Homo sapiens: one gene and its partners. The protein of the gene in region 3 interacts with the protein of the main gene of each other region in a pairwise test. Each region holds a gene or a part of one and is shown on either strand. Other genes may lie near its edges.

Region 1 (7,434 bases), on a different chromosome or scaffold from region 3:
CTCACCCCTCGCTGAACATCAAATCTCTCATCTGAAAAATGAGCCCTTTTTTTTTTTTTTGAGACAGAGTCTCACTCTGTAGCCCAGGCTGGAGTGCAGTGGCGTGATCTCGGCTCACTGCAACCTCCGCCTCCCGGGTTCACACCATTCTCTTGTCTCAGCCTCCTGAGTAGCTGCGACTATAGGCGCCCGCCACCACGCCTGGCTAATTTTTTTTTTTGTATTTTTAGTAGAGACGGGGGTTTCCTCATGTTAGCCAGGCTGGTCTCAAACTCCTGACCTCATGATCCGCCCGCCTCAGCCTCCCAAAGGGTTGGGATTACAGGCATGAGCCACCACGCCCGGCCAAAAATGAGGCCTTCTAAGAAGCTAAGATTCCCATCTCCGTGGCCCTCCACGCCCTTCATCTGCCAGTCCAGATAATAATTTTCTCACTTGTTCACTAAATGTTTACTGGGCACCTGCTCCGTATGTGCCCCATGCTGGGCACCAAGATGAATCAGACTGGGTAATGCCTTTGAAGGCCTCACCTGCTAACTGGGGAGACAGCACACAGACCATGACAAGGCCACAATCATCCTGATTGTCCCAACAAACATGTGCCTGGCACAAAGAGAACACAGGCAGAACAGGACTGTGTGCCTGGGAGCTGGAAAGAGTTCCCGGAGAGGCAACACTGGAGCTGAGACTTAAAGGAAAACTTAGAGATGCTTGTGGGGCACATGAGTAGGGGCGGCTTTCCGGGCAGAGAAAACAGCAGGTTTTCTCTGCTTCAGAGCCCTGCAGGGACTGAGTTCAGCAGCAGGGGAAGAGGGGAGACCTGGCACGTGCGGGAGGCCTGGAGAAGAGACAAGGAAACAGCGTGAGTATCGTAGGCACATAAAGACCTGGCTGGGGATATTCAGGGAGTGGAGGGCAGGCTCTGAGGTCAGGCTGGCAGAGGGTCAGTCCCGGCTATGCTGCTATGCTGCTTCCTCATTGGTTGTCCCTGGGCAGGCTCTCTCTCTCTCTCTCTCTCTCTCTCACCCTCAGGCTCTTCATCGCTGATATGGAGATAATACTGCTCCCTGGCAAAGTCAGCATTGTGTCAGGATTAAATTTGCAGCATGAGTAAAGCACCCGGCACATAGTAAGTGCTCAGTAAATGCTAGGTGCCATTTTCACTGTTCACTGTTCTTCTGGGAATGGCCCTGCAGCCTCCTTGCGGGAGGGGCTGCCTAGAAGAGGAGAGAAGGTGCTCACAGGTAAAGGTGGTCAGAGGACAATAGGTGTGTGTGGACAGGGGAGTGGGGAGGGACTGCTTGAAGCTGCTGAGCAAACAGGGCCAAGTGACCTGCAGCAGATGGTCCTTCAGATGCATCCCAGCTCAGATATTCGGTGCCAGCTGACAGGTGGGCCTGCCACGGTGGCACACAGTAGGTGCTCAATGAATGTTTGCAGAATGAATGAATAAGCACGCTCCAACTTCTGCTCAAAAGTAAATCTTGACACCTTTTCAGAAAGAAACCATTGAAACCTTGTCAACCATTGAAGTTCTTGTCCATTTCACTTCATAAGCACCCCCCACCCCACCCCTGCATGAGGAAAGGCTCGCCTGGGCAGGCTAGGCTGGGGCCTGCTCACTGGGAAGCCTCCCATGCTAAGCCTGCCTCCTACAAAAGGGATTCAAATTTACTTCCTCTCTCCACTCCAGCCTCCAGGGTGTGGCCTGCTGAGGGGCCCTGAATGCCTGGGACTGCCATGTCCCTGCAGCTGTGTGACCTTAGGGGGATGCACTTGTTCTCTGGGACTCAGTTTCCCCAACGGTGAATGAAGGGGTGAATCTGGAAGGCTGACATTCCGTACTCAGCAATGCTGTCACCCCCTCAGAAATCCCCAGCCTAGCCTGGGGGTGGGGTGGGGGGTGGCTGACAATGTGGTATGAAGTCATTCCCTGCACGGAGGAGGGAGGGGTCTTTTCCATGGAGAAAATGACGAACCTGAGACGACAAAAGAGGGGGCTTCTCCTGGGCTTCAGTCTGGGCATGATCCATCAGTAATGGATTACCTCACTGGCTGGGAGACCCCACCCACACCTGCAGTCCCAGGCCCTTCCAAACAATACGAGGCACCCCCATCCCACGCCCCCCAGCAGATCCATGACTTAAAGCCCAGAATCACACCGAGAGGCAGCAGGCCCTGCCCCTCAGCCAAGCGGGCGGGTTCGGGGGGCCATTGCCCAACAGGTCCCTGGATACAGCTAAGGGATGAGAGGGGCCGGTGGGTGCGGAAAGACAAAGGCTTCGGGTAGCAGGAGACAGTGGCCAGGGCACGCTCGCAGCGAGGTCCACCCAGAGCCCAACGAGGGCCCGACCCTGCCGCGCTGGGCTAAGGGTGTACCCAGATCCCACGCCCACACTCCCTACCGCGGTGCTGAGGGCCCGGGGCGGGCTTCCTGGAGAAGGAAGAAGACCCGCAGAGACACGAAGAAGAAGGAGGAAGATGAGACAGACACCCGGACGGACTGACAGGGGGAGACGCCGAATGAGACCCGGGCACAGGGGTGCGGGGCGCTCGTCGGACGGAAAGCAGAGACAGACCCAGATGCAGGGACGGTGGGGGGGGGGCCATGGAGGAAGACAGGGTACCCAGGCAGACCCAGAGACCACGACACCCGCGCAGAGACAGAGATGCGCGGGGCGCACAGAAACACGGACGCGCAGAGGCGGCCCCGGAGACGCTCACCTCTCCCGGCCCGGCCTCGCCCCCGGGTCCCACTCACCGAGGCCGCAGACCTCGCGGCGCAGGCTAAGACGGCCGCGCTCCTCCGCTATGGCACGCAGCATGTGCTGCAGCGAGCGCTCCTCGGCCTCGGCGCCGCCCGCAGGCTCGGGGGCGGCGGCGGCGGGGAGGGCGGGCGGCCCGGCCCGCAGCCCGCCGCGAGCACCAAGGAAGCCACAGTCCGCCTCTGTGCGCGTCGCCGTCGCCGCCGCCGCCGCCACCACCCGCCAAACACAGCACCGGCGAGCGCACCTCCGCGCCGCCGCCGCCCGCGCGCCCCCGGCTCCGCTCGCCCCGCCCCGGCCCGGCCCGGCCCCGGTCCGGCCCCGCCCCTTCCCCGCCCCGGCCCCGCCCCTGTCCCCTCCCGCCCCGCCTCTGAACGGCCCGGACCCACCCCGGCTCCCTGGCCCCGCCCCCTGACCTCCCTTGCCCCGCCCACTTCCAAACGGCCAGTCTCCGCCAATCTTCGGATGCCCAGGACAGCCTCCCTCAAACCGCTCGCGGGGTCCCGCCTCCACCCAAGGTCCTAAACGCCCCACCAACGGGATCACGCCTCTGAGCCCCTCCCGCCGCCCCTTCAGGGCACCTCTCCCCTCCCCCGCTGCTACCCCACGGGATGTGTACTTTGTCACCCGCCCTGTGCGTTGCCACCTCCACCAAGTCCCCTCGGCTGACTTCTGGGAACTTCCTCCGCAGAACCCCTCAAGAGGTCACCTGCTCCCAGAAGGTGGTCTCCTGGGGGACACCGTGGCAAAGCCCTTCCGGCCCCCCTCCTCTGCACCTGGCACAGTGCAGAGTGTTGCGCCTCCATTTCCTCAGCTGCACCATGGGGGACCTTTCCCTGCCTTGCCTCCCCAACATGGGGGAGTGTTGATGAAGGGGGAGGTATGAGGTTAGCTGGGCGTGTCATCCTGATGAAGCCAGGTCTGGCCAGCATCCCTCCGTGTGCTAGTTGTGGCTGATACAGGAAGACACCGGAGAAGCAGCCAGTGGCCTCCCCAAACCTCACGCCTGGTGGTCCATTTCCAAGAACAGGGGGAGATGGAGAGACCAGCATTGATTTCCAGGTCTCTCCAAAGCTAAATCTACATCACTCCCTGCATTCACAGCCTGTGTGTGGACCCCAGACCCATCAAGGTCCCCCTTTCCCCTGTCTGGAGTCCTCTTCTCCCCATTCCTGTGTAACTTGCTTCCTTTGTGTCCCGAGTGTCACATCCTCAAAGAAACTCCCCTGACCGCCTTCCCTCCCTCTCTCTTCCCTTAGTCTGTTTCTCCTTCACAGGGTGACACTTACCTCCTCCCGACACATTGGATACCTATGGGTTCACTTGTTCTCTTCTCTACCGAGGGAGGGGCCTGTCTACTACACAGCTGTTGTCTCAGTACCCAGAACATTGCCTGGCACACATTAGATGCCCAATAAATAGATATGGGCTGCAGGCTGGGCACAGTGGCTCATGCCTGTAATCCCAACACTTTGGGAGGCCGAGGTAGGTGGATTGCCTGAGGTTAGGAGTTCCAGAACAGCCTGGCTAAAATGGTGAAACCCCATCTCTACTAAAAATACAAAAATTAGCCGGGCATGGTAGCACACATTTGTAATCCCAGCTACTCTGGAGGCTGAGGCAGGAGAATTGCTTGAACCTGGGAGGCGGAGGCTGCAGTGAGCCGAGATCCCGCCACTGCACTCCAAGCTGGGAGACAGAGCAAGACCCTGTCCCCCCCCAAAAAAAAAGAAAAGAAAAGAAAAAAAAATGTAGGCTGCATAAACGAAGAATGATGGAGAGGTCTGATGGGGACGCAGGGGTCTTCCTGGGAGGCACAGCAGGAAGGAGCCGTGGGGTTGGGCAGAGCCCCAGAAGGGAGATGGGATCTGGATCCTGCTTCAGGCCTCTGCCCCAGTTTTGTGCCACTGGCCCCTGAACTCTTCAGAGCAGAGCCACATCTGACCCCTCTGTGTCCCCAGTGCCAGGCCCAGGAGGGCTCTGTAGAAAGGTGAGCAGTGAGGGAATGAAGGAAGTGCGCGACCAGCCTCACGTGTATTTCTCTTCTCCAGTGGGCCTGCATCCCTGTCTGTAAAGTGAGGACACTGGCATGAGGGCTGAGGCCTCTGGTTCTGCGTCTGGAGAGCTGGGGTTTGGGCTGGTGGACGTGAGAACTGGGGATGGTGGATCAGACAGCATGAGCGAGTGCTCCAAGGCTGTCAAGTCCAATAGTCACATCCCTCTTTGCCTCCCCAAACCCCACAGCACCCCCTGCCTGTTCCCACTGCCATGCGTTTGCCCACAGTGTTCCCTTGGCCTGAAATCCTTTCTGCTCCGCAACTGTAGTTGCCTTTGGGACCCACATTGCCTGGTTACGCTTGGCCAATGCATTGTGTTCTTATTTGCTTCACAAACCCCCTTTCCCCACCCCACCCTCCTGCACACAGTTGCCTCCGTGTATTCTGTGTCATATGACCAGCATTGAACCAATTCATCCCACTTCCCGTGGCACCCAGCCCAGGACTGGTGCCAGAAAAATATCTGTTGAATGAATGAGTAAACAAACATCGCTTGGGCTCTCTCCTTTGTATTTCAATAATACTCCAGGTATTACCTATACACAGAATTTTCTTTCTTTCTTTTTTTTTTTTTTTTTTTTTGAGGCGGAGTTTTGCTCTTGTTGCCCAGGCTGGAGTACAATGTCGCGATCTCGCCTCACCGCAACCTCCACCTCCCAGGTTCAAGCAATTCTCTTGCCTCAGCCTCCCAAGTAGCTGGGATTACAGGCATGTGCCACCACGCCCGGCTAATTTCATGGAGATGGGGTTTCTCCATGTTGGTCAGGCTGGTCTCGAACTCCTGACCTCACATATACACAGAATTTTCTAATGTCAACAAATGCTAAATCACACTGTGCATGGGAAGAGGGCAGGAGCAGGACTTCTGGGGCTACAGAGCATGTTCTGTTTCTTGATCTGGGGGCTGGTTACACGGGTGTGGTCAGTTTATGAAAATTAAAAGGCTGCACAGCTGGGCATGGTGGCTCACGCCTGTAATCCCAGCACTTTGGGGGGCCAAGGCGGGCAGATCACCTGAGGTCGGGAGTTCGAGACCAGCCTGGCCAACCTGGCGAAACCCCATCTCTACTAAAAATACAAAAATTAGCTGGGCGTAATGGCACACACCTGTAGTCCCAGCTATTCTGGAGGCTGACGCAGGAGAATCGCTCGAACCTGGGAGGCAGAGGTTGCAGTGAGCCGAGATTGTGCCACTACACTCCAACCTGGGCAACAGAGCGAGACTCCATCTCAAAAAAAAAAAAAAGTTAGAAAATCAAAAGGCTGTGTGCTGTGGTTCAAACCTGTAACCACAGCACTTTGGGAGGCCAAGGCAGGCAGGAGGCTGGCTTAGGCCCAGGAGTTTGAGACCAGCCTGGCCAACATAGCAAGACCTCATCTTTACAAAAAAAAAAAAATTAGCCAGGTGTGATGACACACGTCTGTGGTCACAGCTACTCAGGAGGCTGAGGTGGGAGGATTGCTTGAGGCGGGGAAGTCAAGGCTGCAGTGAGCCGCGATCACACTGCTGCACTCCAGCCTAGGCAACAGAGTGAGACCTGGTCTCAAAAAAAAAATATATATATATGTATATATAACATATATATATGTAATATATATAATATATATGTTATATATGTAATATATGTATGTAATATATATATAAAGCTGGCATTTTGTAATTATTTATGCACTTTTCTGTATACAAATATTCAGAATATAAAATAGAATTGAAAGTATATAGGCAGAATAATGGCCCCAAAATGCCCACACCCTAATTCCTGTGCTAATTCCTGTGAATATGTTGCCTTACCTGGCAAAATGGACTTTGCTGACGTGATTTTTTGTTTGTTTGTTTTCGAGACAGGGTCTCACTCAGTTGCCCAGGCTGGAGTGCAGTGGCACGATCTTAGCTCACTGCAACCTCCACCTCCCCAGCTCAATCCATCCTCCCACCTCAACCTCCTGAGTAGCTGGGACTAAGGGTGTGTGCCACCACACCCGGCTATTTTTTGTATTTTTTGGTAGAGACAGGGTTTCACCATGTTGGCCAGGCTGGTCTCGAACTCCCGACCTCAAGTGATCTGCCCACCTCGGGCTCCCAAAGTGCCGGGATTACAGGCATGAGCTGCCACATGGGGCCTAAGAGTACAGACACTGAGATAGGGAGACTATCCTGGGTTATCCAAGTGGGCCCAATCTCATCACATAAATTCTTAAAATCGGGGAACATTTCCTGGCTGTGGTCAAAAAGAGATGTGACAACACAAGAATGGTCAGGTAAATGCAATGTTGCTGGCACTGAAGAGGGAGGAAGGGGCCACAAGACAAGGCATACAGGCAGCTTCCGGAAGCTGGAAGAGGCAAGGAAACAGATTCTCCTACAGTTGCCCCCAGATATGACACAGCCCTGCCTGCACCTTGACTTTAGCTCAGCAAGACCTCAGTTGAACTTCTAACCTACAGAACTGGAAATGTGTTAAGGCAATAACGTTGTAGTAATTATTACAGCAGTGATACCAATACGTGGGCAAGCCTGAGATGTGGGCATTGTGTCAGCTCTCCACCTAAGCGCTTCTATCCCTGAGGTTTATTTTGCAAACACTTAGAACAACAATCAAGCAAAGTTTAGC
Region 2 (6,936 bases), on a different chromosome or scaffold from region 3:
TCCCCACCCTCTTTCAGTACCTCCCCGCCAATCCACCCCAATTCCACCACCATTACCTCTTCTGTTTACCAGGACTGATAATGCCAGGTGTGTCAAGTAGAATCTAAAATCAGGAAAGTGAGATACCCAGACCCCAGGAGAAAAGATTATGACTGGGAAGTCAGAGAGAGGCTACCTGTGATGTCAGGAGCCTGCCCTCCCTTCTCAGTCAAACTATTATTGACTTTAGGTTTGTTTTTTGTTTTTTTCTGAGACGGAGTCTCACTCTGTCATCCAGGCTGGAGTGCAGTGGCACAATCTCAGCTCACTGCAACCTCTGCCTCCCGGGTTCAAGCAATTCTCCTGCCTCAACCTCCTGAGTAGCTGGGATTACAGGCGTGCACCACCACACCCGGCTAATTTTTGTATTTTTTTAGTAGAGACAGGGTTTCACCATGTTGGCCAGGCTGGTCTTGAACTCCTGATCTCAAGTGATCCGCCTGCTTTGGCCTCCCAAAGTGCTGGGATTACAGACGTGAGCCACTGCGCCCAGGCTGACCTTAGGTTTCTACCATTCTGCTTTGATGGGATCTGGGAGAAAGATGATGACTGTGAATATAAGGAAGATTAGGAAGCAGTAAACAGAGAATGAAATCGGCTGGGCGTGGTGGCTCATGCCTGTAATCCCAGCACTTTGGGAGGCCAAGGCAGGCGGATCACCTGAGGTCAGGAGTTTGAGACTAGCCTGGCCAACATGGTGAAACCCCATCTCTACTAAAAATACAAAAGTAGCCGGGCGTGGTGGCGCATGCCTGTAGTCCCAGCTACTCGGGAGGCTGAGGCAGGAGAACTGCTTAAACCCGGGAGGCAGAGGTTGTAGTGAGCTGAGATCATGCCATTGAACTCCAGCCTGGGCAACAAGAGTGAAACTCCATCTCAAAAAAAAAAAAAAAGAGAGCGAGAGAATGAAATCTTTCTGACTAGATGTCAGGGGAGGGCAAGGTAGAGACAGAACTGTACCATGCCTAAAGGAAGAGGAAACCCCCTTTCCTGGCCAGGCGCAGTGGCTCACACCTGTAATCCCAGCACTTTGGGATGCTGAGGCAGGCGGATCACGCGGTCAGGAGATCGAGACCATCCTGGCTAACACAGTGAGACCCCATCTCTACTAAAAATACAAAAAATTAGCTGGGTGTGGTGGCAGGCGCCTGTAGTCCCAGCTACTCAGGAGGCTGAGGCAGGAGAATGGCGTCAACCTGGGAGGTGGAGCTTGCAGTGAGCCAAGATCGCGTCACTGCACTCCAGCCTGGGAGACAGAGTGAGACTCCATCTCAAAAAAAAAAAAAAAGAAAAAGAAAAGAAACCCCCTTTCCTCACATAAATGAATGTGACCATCATTTTCTTCAAGGCTGATGGTAAGGGAGACCCTCTTAGCTTCACCCTCTGTCCTGTTTCAAGGACTCCCTTTGTAGGTACCCACCACCTGGGTCTCCTTCTCTGTGATGACCCCCAGAGCTTGGCAGCGAGTAGTATGCACCTTCCTGGAAACAGGGAACACCTGCCAGGAACAAAGGAGTCTCAGTGAGGTCCCAGATCCCTCCAAGACCATCCTTGAAGGCATGGCAAGAAGTAAAAGATGTAAAGGGTAGGATGGTCAAGGGTGTAGCATACCTTTCGGCCCAGTAGCTGGTTGGAGAGTGTTGACTTCCCTGCATTCGGGGCTCCCAGGAGGACCACTCGTAGGACCCGGGAATTCTCAGGCATATCAGGGTGATGGACCAAGAGGACATCCTGCTCATCTATGTGCAAGTGGGAAGAAGCATGAGACACAGTGGAATCTGGATTTCCTGTCAAGTGCTTGTTCCTGCCCACCCACAAAGGGAGCAGGGGTACAAAATTAGTGCACCAGGTTGAAGTCACCTAGAGCTGACTTTGAGACTTTGGCCCTTAATTTACATTAATTTATAAAGTAACTCCCTGAGCCCTTTAGTTTTCTCATATGTAAAAGTGAGTTGATATTAACAGTACCTACTTACCAGCTTATAATTTTTTTGATGACTAGCAATTGTGTAAAACAACTCAGCACAATACCTGGCACTTAATAATTACTGCATGTAATTATAATGTATAGCTGTGCCTGAGAAGTGAATGTACATGAAAGCAAGCTGGATTACACAAAGCCAGATATTTCCTCAGCTCTCATTCTCTCACCCTACTAAGGGTGCTATGAAGGCCCTGCAAGCTTTCCCAGTCTTTTTTTTTTTTTTTCCTGAAGGAGGGACGGGAGGAAGGGCTAAGGGTCAAGAAGGGAGAGGGCCCAGTCTTTTTATATTATCTTCTTATGACACCATTTTGCAATGACCAGTTTGTGTCCAGTCTCCAATACCGGACACTGTTTGAAGAATAAAGTGTGCTGTTTTCCAGGTGTAACTGTGTCTTAACAAGAAGATGAGGCCCAACATGCATTTACTGGATCAAATTTGCTTCCCATGTCGGGGTGCAGAGCCATAGTTCCACTTTGTGGCCCTTCAATCTCATGCTCTTTAGTGAGCGTCTCTGGTTGTGACCAGATCGTTTCCTTCTCCCACTCAAACTGTTATTTCTCTCCTGAGAGATTTTTCACTGCTCCTCCCTGTCAGGGCCTCAAAATTGTTTTCTATAAAATAGAATCAAAGACAGTATCCCCAGAAACCTTTCAATACTAAAAACATGACAGTTCCGAGCAAACCTATCAGGGCGCTTTACCTCTGTTCATGGACACCGCGGGGACGCAAGGAGTCACCGAACTGTCGGGCTGAGAGAATCCGAGGAAGTGGTCCAGGGCAGAGCCCTGGCCATTACTGCGAGAAGCCGAGGCCAAGCGGGGACCAGAGAAAGCGGACCCCGCGACGCAGGACACGCACCTCCGTTGGAAGCCTAAGAGTGAGGAAAAAGGGATCACCCGCTCCCTCGCGACATGAGGGCCCACCTGCCAGACTCTTAACACCGATTGAACAAGCCTAGCCCCGCGCCAGCTGGGGGCAGCCATTACAGCCGCAAGGCACTGCGGGAACCGACCAGGAGCGCTCCTACGATTGAACAGAGCGGCTGACGAACCAGCGAGTAGGAGAGAGGTAGGTCTGCCCAAATTGAAAGCCGAGACACATGGGATGTGGGCGGGAGGAGGAATTGCTCTGGAGACTGGTGGAGGCTAAGGAAAGGGGAAAATGTGTATTTAGAGTCTGTGCAAGCATGACGGTAGTTTTGGACTCCCATACACAACGTATTTTTTTCTTCTGCCAAAGTTTTGTAAACGGCCCTTCTGGCCATGTCTCCTAAAAGACTACATTTCCCATGAGGCCAAATAGCAGAAATCGTCCTCCCATCGAGGGAGGAATGGTTGTGGGAGTGGGAGGGGGCACTGTTCCGCCTGTCCCCGTAAGGGTTTTGTTGTTGTTTGTTCCTAGTCCTTTCCATCCTTTGGCCTGCAGGATCCTCTCCCAGCCTTAATTTGGCTTGCCCTAGAGGTCAGCGGTGGCCCCGGGCTGTCTGCACCTTTGCTTTAGGCTAGGTTCCTGGAAGGAGTGGTCCTTGGGTCGGTGTTTGGGATGAAGAGCAGGTCTGGATTTCCCTCCTGTAAGCCTTGGCTACTGTCTACTATCTGAGGTCATTCCTTTATGGAGAACAACCAGAGGGTTTGCAAAGGAGGAAGAAGTGGCTTAGCCACCTAAGGTCTCCTAGACCGCTCTAGCAGCCGGAGAAACTCATTTACCTTGCTCTGTTTGAGGCCTTGAGCCCTCTTCATCCTTTGTAGCCTCTAAATCAAACACTTGAAACAGAGAGCTGGGCGCGGTGGCTCACGCCTGTAATCCCAGCACTTTGGGAGGCCGAGGCGGGCGGATCACGAGGTCAGGAGATCGAGACCATCCTGGCTAATACGGTGAAACCCGGTCTCTACTAAAAATACAAAAAATTAGCCGGGCGTGGTGGCGGGCGCCTGTAGTCCCAGCTACTCAGGAGGCTGAGGCAGGAGAATGGCGTGAACCTGGGAGGCGGAGCTTGCAGTGAGCTGAGATTGCACCACTGCACTCCAGCCTGGGCGATAGAGCGAGACTCCATCTCAAAAAAAAAAAAAAAAAAAAGAAACAGAGATAAACTTTGGTAGAGGGGGTGTTGAGGAAGGAAGGTTCTTAGAGTCAGTGCTCATTCTGTCACCCAGGCTGGAGTGCAGTGGCATGATCATAGCTCACTGGAGCCTGAAACTCTTGGGTTCAAGCGATCTTCCAGTTTCAGCCCTCTTGAGTAGCTAGGACTACAGGCACATGCTAACATGCCTGACTATGGAGGAAGATGTATAAAGCATCCACTAGCAAGCTCTGTCCTGTGCTGGGAATACATCAGTGAACAAAACAGACAGAAATCTCTATCACGGGATTTCAGGGACCCCATCTCTAAAATAACAATAGCAACAAAAATACAACACAATACAGTATAACAACTATTTATATAGCACTTACATTGTATTAGATATTATAAGTAATCTAGAGACTTTAAGATGACTTAAAGTCATCTCTTACTACAAGAGAATCAGCAGATTTTGGTATCCATAGGATGGGAGGGTGGAAATTATGGTATCTAAATTCCCTGGGAAGACACCACTGTATATTCTGGCTATCCTCAATTTCTCTTCTCCCATTCTTTCTTTTATTTTTATTTTTTTGAGACAGGGTCTTGCTCTCTCACCCAGACTGGAGTGCAGTGGTGCAATCATGGCTCACTACAGCCTCGACCTCCCAGTCTCAAGCGTTCCTCCCACCTCAGCCCTGCTAGTAGCTGTGACTACAGACCTGCCGCTGCCATGCCTAGTAATTCTTTTTTTTTTTTTTTTTTGAGACAGAGTTTCACTCTTGTTGCCCAGGCTTCAGTGCAATGGTGCAATCTTGGCTCACTGCAACCTCTACTTCCCGGGTTGAAGTGATTTTCCTGCCTCAGCCTCCCGAGTAGCTGGGATCACAGGCATACACCACCATGCCCGGCTAATTTTGTATTTTCAGTAGAGACGGGGTTTCTCCATGTTGGTCAGGCTGGTCTTGAACTCCCGACCTCAGGTGATCCGCCCACCTCAACCTCCCAATGCGCTGGGATTACAGGCGTCAGCCACCTCGCCCAGTGCTAATTTTTAAATCTTTTGCAGAGACAGAGTCTCACTATGTTGCCCAGGCTGGTTACGAACTCCTTGCCTCAAGTGATCCTCTGCCTTGGCCTCCCCAAGTGCGAGTTTACAGGCATGAGACACCATGCTTGGCCTTTCCCCAGATATTTTTTTCTTCAGTTGGTTGAATTCCTGGATGCTGAACCCTTGGATATTGAGGACCAGTATTGAGCAGGAGAGGGCTGTGGGGTTAACAGAGGATTTTCTTTTCTTTTTTAAGAGGAAAATTTTATTCTTACTGAGATGGAGTCTGGCTCCCCTAGGCTGGAGTGCAATGGTTGAATCTCACTGCAACCTCCACCTCCCAGACCCAAGCAATCCTCCCTCTTCAGCCTCCCAAGTAGCTGGGACTACAGATGCGGGCCACCACATCCGGCTAATTTTTTGGTAATTTTTTTGTACAGATGGGGTTTCACCATGTATTCCAGGTTGGTCTTGAACTCTGCCTACTCCATCTCCCAAAGTGCTGAGATAACAGGCGTGAGTCACTGTACCTGGCCTGAACATTTTTTTTTGGAGACAGAGTCTCGCTCTGTCGCCCAGGCTGGAGTGCAGTGGCACGATCTTGGCTCTGCCTCCCGGGTTCAGGCCATTCTCCTGCCTCAGCCTCCCGAGTAGCTGAGACTGCAGGCGCCCACCACCATGCCCGGCTAATTTTTTGTATTTTTAGTAGAGACGGTGTTTTACTGTGTTAGCCTGGATGGTCTCGATCTCCTGACCTCGTGATCCACCCGCCTTGGCCTCCCAAAGTGCTAGGATTGCAGGCGTGAGCCACCGCGCCAGGCCACGTTGCTTTTTTTAATTAAAAAAAAATTTTTTTGAGCCACAGTCTCACTCTGTTGTCTGAGCTGGAGTGTAGTGGTTTAATTTTGGCGCACTGCAACCTCCACCTCCTGGGCTCAGGTGATTCCCCCATTTTAGCCTCCCAGGTAGCTGGGACTACAGATGTGCCTGACCACGCCCAGCTAATTTCTGTTTTTGGTTTTTTTTTTTTTTTTGAGATGGAGTCTTTCTCATTGCCCAGGCTGGAGTGCAGTGGTGCGATCTCAGCTCACTGCAACCTCCACCTCCCTGGTTCAAGTGATTCTCCTGGCTCAGCCTCCCGAGTAGCTGGGATTACAGGTGCCCGCCACCACACTGGCTAATTTTTGTATTTTTAGTAGAGACAGGGTTTCGCCATGTTGGCTAGGCTGGTCTCAAACTCCTGACCCGGTGATCTGCCCGCCTTGGCGTCCCAAAGTGCTGGGATTACAGGGATGAGTCACTGCACCTAGCCTAATTTCTGTATTTTTTATAGAGACAGGCTGTCACCATGTTGCCCAGGTTGGTCTTTTGTTTGTTTGTTTGTTCGTTTGAGACTCCCAGGCTGGAGTGCAATGGCATGATCTTGGCTCACTGCAACCTCTGCCTCCCGGGTTCAAGCTATTTTCCTGCCTCAGGCTCCCAAGTAGGTGGGGTTACAGTCTTCTGCCACCACGCCCGGCTAATTTTTTGTATTTTTAGTAGAGATGGGGTTTCACCATGTTGGCCAGGCTGGTCTCGAACTCCTGACCTCAGGTGATCCACCCACCTCGGCCTCCCAAAGTGCTGGGCTTACAGGTGTGAGCCACCATGCCTGGCTTGGCCCAGGCTGGTCTTGAACTCCTGGGCTCAAGTAAGCCATCTGCTTTGACCTCCCAAAGTGCTGAGATTACAGGTGTGAGTTACTGCCCCTAGCCTTGGAACATTTTTTTGTTTTGTTTTGTTTTGTTTTGAGATGGAGTCTC
Region 3 (7,026 bases):
ATCATCTATGTATAGTGTGCATAAAATGGACAGATTTTGCTGTTCAAAGGTATTTTTTTTTTCATTTCCTGTTTTTGGACTGTGTTTCAGATAGACAAGGTTGCCAGAGGAGTTTTCTGATTGGGTGAAATATTACAGTATTTCAAAGAAACATAAAAGAAATAATTCATATTTGTCCAGTAAAACAAAATGCAGTGCTATCATCATGTATTTGTTCTCTGTCTTACTAAAAATTTGGGTGGAGATGGGGATGTTTATGTGAACATCTTGAATTTTTTGGAAAACATTTGCTTTATATAAGTACAAAATACTGCAATTGAACAAATGTAACTGGCAAATTGAACAAATACCTCCTGTGCTTTGTTGTGGGAAAATCAGTGAAGGTACTTCACATTGAGAAAATAAGACAGGAAACACTACCAGACAGATAAAGACACAGCAGATACTGAGTAGCCTGGGAGTCTTTCTTGGAGAGATCAGTATAGATCAGAAAGTTGAGGAAAGCTTCATGGGAAGCTTGAGATTTGATGAATGATTTGTAAAAAATAAATAATAATTGGATAAGCAAAGAAGAGTGGGATACCTTTCTAGACTGGTGGAATTAACATAGGTAATAATATACGATTTAGAAGGAGCAGTAAGTGAAAAGTAATAGACTGGTCAACCAAGTCACAGTTCATGCTTTTTCCCATCCCATCTTCCTCATCTGTAACTTAGAATTCATAATATTTACCTTTGGAAGTTTGTGGTAGAGAGCAAAGGAGGTAATAGAACAAGTGTTTGCAAAACCATAAAGTGTACTTCAATTTTGTAAGATGGTACATTGCTTTTATTAGTAGTAGAAAATGGAGTAGATCACGTAAGACTAAGCTTTGGAAAATCAATGGTAAATAGTTGGTACTAGAGACCTATAGTAAGTTTTTTGAGCAGACGAACAGTGGTATTTCATAGTAGTCTGGCTAGACTGGTTTCAAATGGGGAATGGAATCTAGAAAGTCTCATGTATCACCTAATTATTATAGCTATAGTGTTAAGTTTTAAATTATTATAAACATTTCTAATATTTTCTTGATTATCCAACTTTGTGGAATTATGCTTATTAAATGCTTATTAAAAATATTTTTCTTTTTTTCCTAACAGTTTGATAAAGGGAGACCCAGCAGCATCTTTGCCCATCATCAGCTATTCTTTTACCTCATACTCACCTTATGTAACAGAACTTATAATGGAATCCAATGTAGAGCTCATAGCAAAAAATGACTTGCGCTTTATAGATGCTGTCTATAAGGTATTTTGAGTTTATCAAACAATAACTATTAGTTATTGAATGATTTTTAAAAATTAATGATTTAGTCATAACTTCTTAAATATATGCAGCATATACAATTGACAGGATATTTTCATTTGTATTTATCTCATTTAAATGTAGTCTCTATTGAAATCAAGATGCAATTCATGTTTGCTTTTTGAATGTTACCTATTCTAATAAATACAGCAACTGGTAAATATTTGTTGTTGGCTATTGTTTGCCCTTTTTAATCAAATTTTAGTAAAATTTGATATACTGGCAGAAATTAGAGAGTAATGTAATTATATTCAATAAAACTTACAGTTTTTTAGAATTATATGTTAATTTAGTTGTTTGTAAGAAGGAACTATTACTGACATTTTTTTTTTATTAAACTGATATATTCTTTGAGGTCTGAGAGCATGTCTTATATTGTATCTACCCTAGTATTTATACTTGTACTATGTGTATACTGAATTTAATCTCTTATTTGATTTTTTTAAAACCCTGCTTTTATCATTAATTTTTGCTTAAGTACTGTGGTTTGTATTAAAGTTAGTTTTTAATGGTAAAAACCCACTTATCAAATGTAGTCTATTTTTTTTTTTTTTTTGAGACAGAGTCTTGCTCTGTCACCAGGCTGGAGTGCAGTGTCACGATCTAGGCTCACTGCAGTCTCCGCCTCCTGGGTTCAAGCAGTTCCCCTGCCTCAACCTCCTGAGTAGCTGGGACTACAGGCGTGCACCGTGACCACGCCTGGCTAATTTTTTGTATTTTAGTAGAGAGGGTTTCACCATGTTGGCCAGGATGGTCTCGATCTCCTGACCTTGTGCTCTGCCCACCTTGGCCTCCCAAAGTGCTGGCATTACAGGCATGAGCCACCGCACCCAGCCTCAAATAGTCTTTTAAAAAAAGCAGAGTTGCAGTCAATGAAATGGGAGCTTTTATATGTAGTCTCTGTTTAATCTTTCTCTTTCTTGCTTTTGATCCCAGAAGACATCCATGGAAGCCTAAGAGGCACTTTTAAGAAATTCTAGAGCTCCACAGAGTAGATTTAGGAAACTACTGATCTAGTGTGTTTTTTTTCATTTTACAAATGAAAAATTGAGACCAAAAGGCCTACTGACGTATCCAAAAATCACATAGTGGAAGAGTTATAAACAAATAGAACTATAGTTTCTGACTCTGGTATGGTATTCTAGTGAACTAAGAAGTTTTTCTAATATCTCTGAAGATATTTACACTTTTTGATGATTGACTATATTTTTCCATCTCTCTGGACAGACATCTGTTCTCCAGCATATCCTTTGCTACCTGTTTTCCACCTGATACCTGTCTTACTGGATCATGACTTAACACCAGCCCTATGAATTACTTTAGTACTCTTTAGTTAATGGCTTGGTTTTCCTTGTCCTCTCAAAGGTGGCCATTATTCCCCTGACCAGGTGGGCATTATCATTTGGAATTTTAGAAATAAATTGCTCCCAATTATTACAAGAGTCTGTTTCCTCTGCAGCTTCTTCGTGATCAATTTAATTATAAACCAATTTTGACAAAAAAGCAGTTTATCCAATGTGGGTTTGCAGAATGGAAAATCCAAATTGTTTGTGATATTTTGAATTGTGTGATGAAAAAGCACAAGGAATTAAGCAGTCTTCAGAAGGTAATTTTATGAATAGATATTAATGCTGATGTATGCTATTAATAGATGGCTCAGTATTTTAATGTATAAAATCAAAACCCTAGACAGCAAATTATTTCATAGTGTAATTACTGTATTATTCAAAGATTTGAGTAACCTTATAAAGCTTGTTGTTTATTTTAAATACTACTCTCTTGTTTTATACACCTGTGACTGGGAACTCCTAGTGTTAAACTAATAGTTCAAACATAATACATTTTCATTACTTCTTAGTTTTTAAAAGTCATGTAGTCTCATTAGAGTCTCATTATTTGTCAGCTATATTTCATATATGAAAATTTAAATGTTAATGGAATTTTAATATATAATTATGCTTTCACACAAAATTTGTTATTTTGACTAATACCTTTTTTTTTAGATTCCATCACAACAAAGAAAGAAAATCAGTTCTGGTAAGTCAGAACCTCCTTTGGGCAATGAGAAAATATCTGCAGAGGCTGTTGGCGTTGATATCAGTGGCAGGTTTATGACCTCAGGAAAGGTATGCAACCACAAAGAAAATATCATATTGTTTAAGAGTTATCTAATTAATCCAATATACAGTTTTCACTTTTCTGATTGGCACCTGATGAACATTCTAGTTAGATATTGGAGTTCATTGATTTTTAACAGTGCATGCCATATATTTTTGGGCAGTATGCCTGAAGTTATAACAATAGGATAGAAATATAAAATTAAATACGTGTTCTCTTTATATTTCTAATTTCTAATTCTGCCGGATTTCCTAAACAGAAGAGTAGTGATTTAGGAAGATTATCTTATGCAGTTATCTACATTTGCTCTTAATTGTGTTCTGGTCTTCCTAAAACATGGGAACATATGAAGAGCCTACATTAGCAGTAGTGATAGGTTATAATGATTCATTTATGTACATTATATTTCTGTAACCAAGTATGAATTATCCAATAATTGGTAGTCCCTACACGTAGAATCTGGTTTTCAGTTAATATTTTGAATATTTTCTCTTTCTTGAAAGATAATTTTTCTGCCATTATCTGCTTTGAGCAGCTGTGGCAAATTGAATCTAATGCACTTAGAGCTACAGTGTTTCTATCACTAAGGGAGACTTAAGCTAAAATATTATTTATTAATATATTTTCAGCTGTCTTCCAGCTGGAGAAGACTCTGATTGAATGATAGAATATCAGATGAATTATCAATGGTGTAATTAAGTAAAGGATGTGAATACTTTCTGACTGAAGTATAATCTAGAGTATTATTTCTGCCCTAATCCAAAATACATGAGTTATGTAAACAGAATCTATTTTAAAAATTTATTCTTGGGTCTAGCACAGTAGCTCATGCCTGTAATCCCAGCACTTTGGGAGGCCAAGGCAGGTGGATCACCTAAAGTCAGGAGTTTGAGACCAGCCTGACCAGCATGGCGAAACCCCATTTCTACTAAAAATACAAAAATTAGCTAGGCGTGGTAGCTGGTGCCTGTAACCCCAGCTACTTGAGAGACTGAGGCAGGAGAATCGCTTGAACCCTGGAGGCAGAGGTTCCAGTGAGCCGAGATTGTACTACTGCAGTCCAGGCTGGCTGACAGAGCGAGACTCCATCTCAAAAAAATATGTTTATTCCTTTATACCTTAAAAAAGTGAAATTTTATTATAAGAAAATGTTCTTATGCCACTTCTTTTTAATGTACCTGTTTTGCTCTAGGTAATGAAGACAATATAAAGAATGATACAAAGCCGCCATTTTTGAATAAGTGCATGTAGTTTTTGTACACTTGCATCTCTAACTCATCTAACTCTTGTTAGTTTTATTTATGATTTTCTAACTGTTAAATGACTTATATCTTGTATTCTTCCCCAACTAGAAGGAACATATATGAACAGGGATTTTCTTATACTGATTTTTTGTACCTTCATTTTGCTTAGCACAGGATTAGGAACACTGTGAGCACTTATTAATTATTTATTGATATAATGTGCTTTTCAATGTTCTATTTCAGTATGAGAGTTGAGGGGACAGTGTAAATTGTCCTAGCCAAGAAAAATGTAAACTTCAAAACATTAGACTTATTTTTAATTTTCTTAAAGCAAAGTTTTCTTTGTTATCTATTAAAATTTATACCAGATCTTTATCAGAAATTTGAATAAGTATTAAAAGTTCTCAGATTTAGAAAAGAGTCTACAAGTACATTTCTTTGTTTACAAGCAAAAGTTGAGTCAATATTAAAGCAAATTGTCTCCTATCCCAGTGCCTTATATAGTATGCCTATTTGCGCTTCTGAGTCACATATGTTTTTATAGTGTGTATGCAAACTGTAGAATAGGAAGCAGGTAGAGGATTTCTAGGTAAATGCATACCGTGACCTAATGCTTTTTTTGTCAGGACTTCTTCGTTGTCATTATTAGGTTTGAATTGTTAGCTGAAGGTCTAATAAATTGCAGTTTGTTTAACAGAAAAATTGTAATGAGCCCTACTCATAGAGCCAGTTTTTGATTATTTATAAGTGAATTATTTGGCAATCTTTTTTAAAAATAACTTTTTATTATGGAACATTTCAAACATTTACAAACATACCCATCATCCAGTTTCAGCAATTTATCAACTCTTTGCTAATCTTGTTTTGTCTTTATTTTAAATCAAATCTCAGACATAATTTAATAAATATTTCAGCGCTTGTCCTAAAATGTAAGAATTGTTTTAAAAGTCATAACCCCAATTTTATCATCACACATAAATTATTGGTAATGTTAGTAATGGTAATATTTTGATATATATATTATATGTGATAATTTAAACTTTTTTTAATTTTTAAAGATTGGTGTTCCTTTTGCAAAATTGCTGTATGTTTAAAATAATTGTAGGAGGATCTTCTCAGCCCAAAAGCTTCTTAAGCTGATAAGCAACTTCAGCAAAGTCTTGAGATACAAAATCAATGTGCAAAAATTGCTAGCAATCTTATCTACCAACAACAGTCAAGCTGAGAACCAAATCACAAACAAACTCCCATTCAAAATTGCCACAAAAAGAATAAAATACCTAGGAATCTAGCTAACAAGGGAGGCAAAAGATCTCTACAAGCAAAACTATAAACCATTGCTCAAAGAAATCAGAGATGACACAAACAAATGGAAAAACATTCCATGCTCATGGATAGGAAGAATCAATATTGTTAAAATGACTGTACTGCCCAAAGCAATTTATAGATTCAATGCTACTCCCATTAAACTACCATTGACAGTCTTCAGAGAACTAAAGAAAACTACTTTAAAATTTATATGAAACCAAAAAAGACCCAAATAGCCAAGGCAATCCTAAGGAGAAAGAACAAAGCTGGAGGGATCATGCTACCCAACTTCAAACTATACTACAGGGCTACAGTAACCAAAACATCATGGTACTAGTACCAGAACAGACACATAGACCAATGGAAGAGAATAGAGAACCCAGAAATAAGACCACACACCTGCAACTATCAGATCTTCAACAAACCTGATGAAAACAAGCAATGGGGAAAGGATTCCCTAGTCAGTAAATGGTGCTTTGATAACTGGGTAGCCATATGCAGAAGATTGAAACTAGACCCTTTCCTTACACCATACACAAAAATCAACTCAAGATGGATTAGAGACTTAAATGTAAAACCCAAAACTATAAAAACCCTGGAAGACAACCTAGGCAGTACCATTCAGGACATAGGTGTCGGCAATGATTTCATGACGAAGACGCCAAAGGCAATTCCAACAAAAGCAAAAGTTGATAAATGGGATCTAATTGAACTAAAGAGCTTCTACACAGCAAAAGAAACTATCAGCAAAGTAAACAGACACCCTCCGGAGTGGGAGAAAATTTTTGCAAACTTGTATCTGACAAAGGCCTAATATCTAGCATCCATAAAGAACTTAAACAAATTTACAAGAAAAAAACAACCTAATTAAAAAGTGGACAAAGGATATGAACATCTACTTCTGAAGAGAAGGTATACATGCAGCCAATAATCACATGAAAAAAACTCAACATCACTGATCATTAGAAAAATGCAAATCATAACCACAATGAGATACCATGTCACGCTTCT
Region 4 (7,026 bases), on a different chromosome or scaffold from region 3:
ACCTAAACTCTCCAGGTATTTTATTTGTTTTATGGAAAGTATATCTCAGATCTTAGAGAACTTTCCAAGCAAATAAATGAATTATTCCTTTGCTTTTTGTCTTCTTCTTTTTCTCTTTTTGAGATGGAGTCTCGCTCTGCTGCCCAGGATGGCGTGCAGTGGTGTGATCTTGGCTCACTGCAACCTCTGCCTCCTGGGTTCAAGCAATTCTCCTGCCTCAGCCCCCCGAGTAGCTGAGACTACAGGTGCAAGCCACCACATCTGGCTAATTTCTGTATTTTTAGTAGAGATGGGGTTTCACCATATTGGTTAGGCTGGTCTCAAACATCTGACCTCAGGTGATCCACCCGCCTTGGTCTCCCAAAGTGCTGGGATTACAGGCACAAGACACCATGCCCAGCCCAATTCTTGATGCCTGAAGCTATGAAAATCTCATATTTTTTTGTTTTACTATCTTTATTTGCTCAGCTAATTTGACATTTTATTTCGCTCTCAGTAAAAGAATACCATAATGATGGGTTCCTTTGTTTGAGCTGTGTAGACACTAGAGGTTAGCCGTTCTTCCCTGGTGTATGTCTCAGATTAATTTTCAACTTTCTTTTCCAGCCTTACTAGTCCCTTAATCAAAAACAAAACTCCACCTGCAGGCACCAAATTAGAGAAGTCTGACTGGTTAACATTAAGCAATGTTTCCTCCTAACACTGACATGGTGGTCAAGGGCACTGGCCTCAAAGGCAAGAGACTGGGTTCAAATCAGAGCTGCTTGCCCCTGCCTGAGGAACCACTGTCTGGTACCAACACTTCAGCCGCCCTGTGTGGCTTCCTGTTCACACTTTGTGACATCTCTCTTCCTGGCCTTTGCTCAAATTGTAGTCACCATGTTTAGTGCCTCCCTCTAAAATATGAAAGGGTAGCTGAGGATCACCACACATCTGAGAAAGGCTCCAAGATGACAGAGGCCAAAACACACAAAGGAGGAAAAGAAACAGACCAGGATGCAGGGAACAAAAAAATTTTCAGGAAAACCCCCAAATTAAGTGAATTTGCTTAATATCCTTAGAGTAGTAAGAAAAGGTACTGCATTAGTGAGTCAAGAAAGGATGCTATAGAGATAAAGAACAATAAAAAAACTTAGCAATTCAATATAAAACAGGTAAACTTAGTAGAGGGAGTGGATGGTAAAGTTGAAGAATCTTCCTTGAAGTATTACCAAAAGACAAAAAAAAAAAAAAAAGAAAAGAAAGGAAAATGAAAAATTACTTCTTTTTCTGTTCTGTCTTACAGAAATTACTGTAAGACAGAACAGAAAAAATGATGGGGCTAGGAAAAAATTCAAGAAAATTTCCCAGAATTTTAGGATACAAGTTTCCAGATTGAATGAACCCAATGAATGCTCAATAAGTGGGGGAAAAATCCAGAATTCTGAGAATAAAGAGAAGATCCTAAAAGTTTCCAAACTTTTTCTTTTAAATTTTTTTTTTTTTTTTTTGAGACAGAGTTTTGCTCTGTCAACCCAGGCTGGAGTGCAGGGGTGTGATCTCAGCTCACTGCAACCTCTGTCCCCTGGGCTCAAGTGATCCTCCCACCTCAGCCTCCCAACTAGCTGGGACCATAGGCACAAGCCATCATGCTTGGCTAATTTTTGTATTTTTAGTACAGAAGGGATTTCACCATGTTGCCCAGACTGGTCTCAAACTCCTGAGCTCAAGTGATCCACTCACTGCCCTCCCAAATTGTTGGAATTACAGGTATGAGCCACCACACCCACTCACTTTTTCTTTTCTTTTTTGTGGAGATGGGGGTCTCACTATGTTGCCCAGGCTGGTCTTGAACTCCTGGGCTTAAGCGATGCTCCTGCCTCAGATTCCCAAATAGCTAGGACTACAGGCATGCATCACCATGCCCAGCTAAATAAAAAAAATATATTTTTAAAGGAAGGGTCCTACTTTGTTGCCCAAGCTGGACTTGAACTCTTGGTCCTAAGCTATTCTTTCACCTTAGCCTCCTGAGTTGCTGGAATTACAGGTGTGAGCCATAATGCCTGGCTCCTAATTTTACTTTTTTGATATTTATTAGTTTATTTTATTGACTAGTTAATACAGTCACATGGTTCAAATATCAAGAGCATGAAGAGTGGCACTTGACAACCTGCTTCCACCTCCATCCCCACACTCCTTTCATTGTGTTCTGCCAGTGATTTTTATTCAAATGCAGGAAAATTGCAGCCTTTCTCACACAAGGAACAGCATGCTATCTTTATTTTCTGTATATTACTTTTTCCAATTAACAATACTTACTGGAAATTATGTCAAAGAAGACACAGAGTTCATCATTTTTTGGAAAATTATTTTTAACCTAGAACTCTATACACAACCAAAGTATCAATCAAGTATGAATGTAGAATAAAGACATTTTCAGACATGTGAATACTTAGAAAAGGCATTCTTGCTCCGAAAGCTACTGAAGGATGTGTTCCAGCAAAATAAGACAGCAATCCAAGAAGGCAGATAATATGGAATCCAGAAAATAGGGACCTAACAACAACAATAAAAAGGGGGTAAAAGAAATTCTCAGAATGGTGGCAGAGGGAATGGCAGGTGCAGGAAACCCTGAGGAGAACATCCAGACCAGACTGGATCTAGAGGACAGAGGTCTCTAGTGGGTAGATTTCCATGGGAGAATAAAATGGAATTGATAGATTATCTGCTTTGTTTAATCATATAGAACATAGCATTTTGATGGGTTCTATTGAAAACTTTATGGAGATATGTAGATATATAGATAGATAAGCTAGATATGTAGGCAGATGAGCAATGAAAAAGAAAATAAATCATTAACTCTAGAAGAAGCAGAAAGTTGTATAAGGAAAGAAAGATTATAGTACACTGCTTGGCTCTGCAATTGACATTATTTACACAGCTGGCAAGATCATCATCATCACCAGCATTTACTGAGCATTTACTATGTGACAGTCATTGTTCAGAGGTCTTTTTGTGAAAGATCTCATTTACCCTCATAACTGCCCTGGGTGAAGTATACTCCTAAAACTTTCCCATCTTACCTATGGGGGAACTGAGGCACAAAGTTGATAAGTAACTTGCCCTAAGTCATGGTATAAGGGACAGAATCAGGATTTGAACCCAGGAAATCTGATTCTAGCACCCATATTCTTAAGCAGTCTGTCCTGCCAGTGAATATTCATTTAGCCCCACACTACAATGAACTATAGTGTGATGCAGAGAAGGAAAGTAGGGAGCTGGCCTGAACTGGGCCCATGCACACCAAGTCCCGTCCTTCAATGCAGGAGCCAGCTGACAGCATCTGCAATTGATAAACTAATGTGTAATACATATGTATGTTATTTATAAACAAGGAGATCATTACCAGATCATTGAGGGTCTTGTAGCTTGTTTAAGGACTTGGGTTTTACGGAGTGATACAAGACACCCTTGGAAAGTTTTTATCAGAGAAGTGGCATGATCTGACATATTTTAAAAGGACTGCCCAGCCTACTGTGTGGGGAACGGCCTGAGAATATGGGTAAAAACATATATTACTCTGATGAAATAAAAATCAATTTTTTAAAGATGAAAGGATGGAAAAAGAAGATGAGAGATACAGTAAGGCAGAGACAGATATGGGACTCTCTCTCCTGAAATGTCACCCCTGGTGGTTCACAGGTCAGTGGGGGACGACATGTGCCAGGGATAGGAAGAAGGTGGCTTGCCTGCAGGACATAGCCTGAATGGGGTCTTGGAGGGAGCTGAGGGGCTGATCCAGGAAGCAGCCTGGGCCATGAACTGGCAGCCCCTAATTAATAGGTGGCCTCAGCCATGTCCCATGGTGTCTCTGAGTCTGTTTTCTCTCTGTCAAACAGAGAGACTCGGAACTCTTTTCACAGGATTTAAACAAACTATGGGAGTAAAGCTTCCAGAGTACCTGGCACACCTTGGGTCTTAGAAGCAACCTCCATTCGCCCCTCTCTCCTTTCCCGTCTCACACTCACTGGGGACGGGCAGGGCTCACGGGGGACAGGCAGGGCTAGAAGCCAGGTCATGTTCTCCACACACACATCCCAACCCTGAGTACCAGGCCAACGAGTGGCTCAAGAGTCACCCAGAAAAGGAAGAAGGGAGACAGCTGGCCCTCTGACAGAAATAGCTGTGGGGTGGGGCCCAGGGCCGTTGGGGACCAGCAGGCCTGTCCACAGCTGAGTTTTCTGTGGACTCAGAAACCCAGAAGCATCTTTTGGGAATCGCACAAACAGCCCAAGGTCACAGGCACATTGTTCACGCCCTCCAACAGCTCAGACTGTTGGTAAAAATCCGTCTGGAACACCAGTCTTGTCACATTCCTAAAACCTTGTAGACGATCTGCCAAGATGGGTGTTTGGCTTAGGAGAATCAGCTGCAGAACAGCCCTCAGTGACTCCACTGCGGCTGGGTTCCAACTGGAGGCAGGATGTTGTTCAGGCTGGACAGTCCTGTGTCCTGCCGGGCACTGAACGCCCCTCACCTCTCCCAACTCCTGTGGAACAAAGGGGCAGGGCCCAGCCCCAATGGCAAACCAGTGTCCAGCAGCACTCAGTTGGTGTGCAATCTGCTGGCCAGCCTCAGAAAAGCAAATTCATAGAGAAAAAAGTCATGAAATTCACTTTCAAATCAAGTGAAATAGGCCTAGGGACAAGTCTGACATCTTGGTTGCGTGCAGGTGAATTCTGGCCCCAGGGTCACCTCACCAGAGGGCAAGGGACTGCATTGGGGACCCAGATTTGCATCTTTGCAGCTGGGCTCAGTCCTGGACTCTCCACCCCAGAGGAGCCAGGTCAGGTTAGTGCTGGAGAGAGGTAGAGCGAAGTTTCCACACTGAACCCCACTTCTGGGCTGTTCTGGAAAAGAACACGTGCACCCCATCCCCAGCTTGGTTCTCCAACAGCCTTGAGGAGAAGAGAGACAGGCTCCCTCCGCACAGGTTGATATAGGAGGGCTATTTGGGAAGGACAGGGAGAAAAGATGAATGAAAGGGGGACTTAGGATGAAAAGACCCGATATTTACGAACTACCTGAAACAAGGGGCATGGCTTTATGTTGGGTTCCAGAAGCAGAGCCCATGGCAGGACTGGATGTGAGCCCTGTCCCAGCAGGGGCATGAGGGGGGCAGGCCAGTCAGGGAAGGGCTGGGGAGGGAGGTGGTCTCGGCAGGAGTTGGCCTCAGCCTGGCCCGCAGAGAGCTCCGGAGCAGGAAACGTACCACAGAATTGGTTGCATCTTGAAACAAGCCTGGGGGACATTTTGTGACCTCACAAAATGGTTACTTGATGGCTGCAGGCTGCCTTGGGGGCAATGCAACCCCTTCTCCACAACTGGAGTCCTTGGGGGCTGTGTGACCCCTTCTCCACAACTGGACTCCTTGGGGGCAGTGTGACCCCTTCTCCACAACTGGACTCCTTGGGGGCAGTGCGACCCCTTCTCCGCAACTGGACTCCTGTGTGGCCGTGGCTCAAGTGAAAGGCGGTGGCTGTGAGGCCTGAACCAACAGCACCCGCAGGCCCACGAGTCAACTTGGGGCCGGTGAAGCAGCCGGGTGGGGCAGCAGTGCCCCTGCCATGGATCAGGGCCCGAGGCCGCAGGCCACAGAGGGGCCAGCTTGGAGAGGAGGCTGCAGAAACAGTTATGGGGGGAGGGCCTCCGTCCTGCTGGGTGAGGAAGGGGTACCTATGGCACCACCAGGGGATAATAAGCTCACCGCACTGTCTCAAGGCCCCACGGTGAGTTCCTAATGCAGCCTGCGCAAATGACTGTTCCTGTTGGGAAAAACATTCTTCATTTGAGAGCAATACTTTGAATTGCATGGTGAGACCAGTATCGCTTTACTCAGCTGCAGAGTGCTGAATGAGAAGTTTGGGATGCTACCAAAATGCACCAGTAGAATGTGAAATGCGGTAGGAGAGGAAAATCTATCTGCGTTGGAAACACCCCTCCCCAGAAGTGGGAGGCGCAGCTCATGCCTTTGGTGCTAATGAGCTTCTGCAAGTGCGTACTAAACCTTTCTCCTGATAACATCCCGCCTGAATTCCACTGCAACAAGAGAGTGAGAAATAATTGACTTGCGATAATACAGCATTTGCAAATAACTCCCTTTACTATACACGCTTGCCTAGAGTTTAAACCATCACATGGAAGCAGGACACCGGCTGCAGAAGCAGAAATGCACCCTCCAAAGGCTGCCCCCACCACGAGTCCTGCTTCTACCCAGAAGAGTGCAAAGCCCTGCCTGCACAGGGCAGCCTAGCTCTTCCCCTCGCTCCAGCGAACTGGAACCCACGTCCCTGCCAGGTGACTCAGGCTTCCCAATGACCTCAGCCCAGAATTTTCCACTTACTCTCCAGAAGGCATGTTCTTGGGTGCCAGGCCCAAGTGGCAGCCCACTCCCTCCCACTTCCTTGAAGCCTCCCCAGTTTCCATTCAGGCCCCCACCTTCCCAAGTGTTTCAGGGAGGCCGGCTCTCCCCAGTCCCAGGATGAGTCTGACAGGTCACAGGGTAGACCCACCCCCCTTTGCCACAGGCACTGAGCCCCTAAGTCCATGGTCCTTGTCAAAGAGCTTGGTGCAGGAGTGGCCAGACAGACTCATGAAAGTTTACCAGGGAGATACTGCTAGCTCTCTGGAGAGAGCCACCAGAAGAGACGGTGTGTGGGCTCCACAGTGGCAGCCCGGGAAAGCCAAGGCCAGCTGGCCTCCATGAAGCAAGTCAGCCTGAGGATGAGGCCACCCACAGAGGATGGCCCAGCCCAACCAGCTGCGCAGGTGCTGTGGGAAAAAGAGGCCGGAGCCACTGGTGAGGCTGGCGGGGAATCCTGCCCTGCCTCCGGGCTTGCTGTGCTCCAGCCAATATACTTCCCCTTGTCAATGTCAGTCCAGTCAGGGTTTCTGTCCCAGCAGCCAAAGCATCTTGACTGGTACATACAGCCTTCAAGAACTCAAAATGCCACTTCCTCCAGGAAGCCACTTCTGAGACCACTGGCC

What was found.
Region 1: the proteins of CEP44 (region 3) and KIAA0930 interact in binary tests that used the Homo sapiens proteins (3 or more experiments, as listed by UniProt).
Region 2: the proteins of CEP44 (region 3) and ERAL1 interact in binary tests that used the Homo sapiens proteins (3 or more experiments, as listed by UniProt).
Region 4: the proteins of CEP44 (region 3) and LRRFIP1 interact in binary tests that used the Homo sapiens proteins (3 or more experiments, as listed by UniProt).

The regions. Positions count from the first base shown.
Region 1 is NC_000022.11:45,237,879-45,245,312, forward strand, and holds the start of KIAA0930 (uncharacterized protein KIAA0930), read right to left. Parts: upstream 3,017-7,434; 5' UTR 2,826-3,016; coding exon 2,762-2,825; intron 1-2,761.
Region 2 is NC_000017.11:28,851,106-28,858,041, reverse strand, and holds the start of ERAL1 (GTPase Era, mitochondrial), read right to left. Parts: upstream 3,027-6,936; 5' UTR 3,008-3,026; coding exon 2,725-3,007; intron 1,779-2,724; coding exon 1,651-1,778; intron 1,538-1,650; coding exon 1,460-1,537; intron 104-1,459; coding exon 57-103; intron 1-56. UniProt on the Homo sapiens protein: Probable GTPase that plays a role in the mitochondrial ribosomal small subunit assembly. Specifically binds the 12S mitochondrial rRNA (12S mt-rRNA) to a 33 nucleotide section delineating the 3' terminal stem-loop region.
Region 3 is NC_000004.12:174,300,899-174,307,924, forward strand, and holds part of CEP44 (centrosomal protein of 44 kDa), read left to right. Parts: intron 1-1,140; coding exon 1,141-1,288; intron 1,289-2,804; coding exon 2,805-2,951; intron 2,952-3,348; coding exon 3,349-3,471; intron 3,472-7,026. UniProt on the Homo sapiens protein: Centriole-enriched microtubule-binding protein involved in centriole biogenesis. In collaboration with CEP295 and POC1B, is required for the centriole-to-centrosome conversion by ensuring the formation of bona fide centriole wall.
Region 4 is NC_000002.12:237,630,562-237,637,587, reverse strand, and holds part of LRRFIP1 (leucine-rich repeat flightless-interacting protein 1), read right to left. Parts: intron 1-7,026.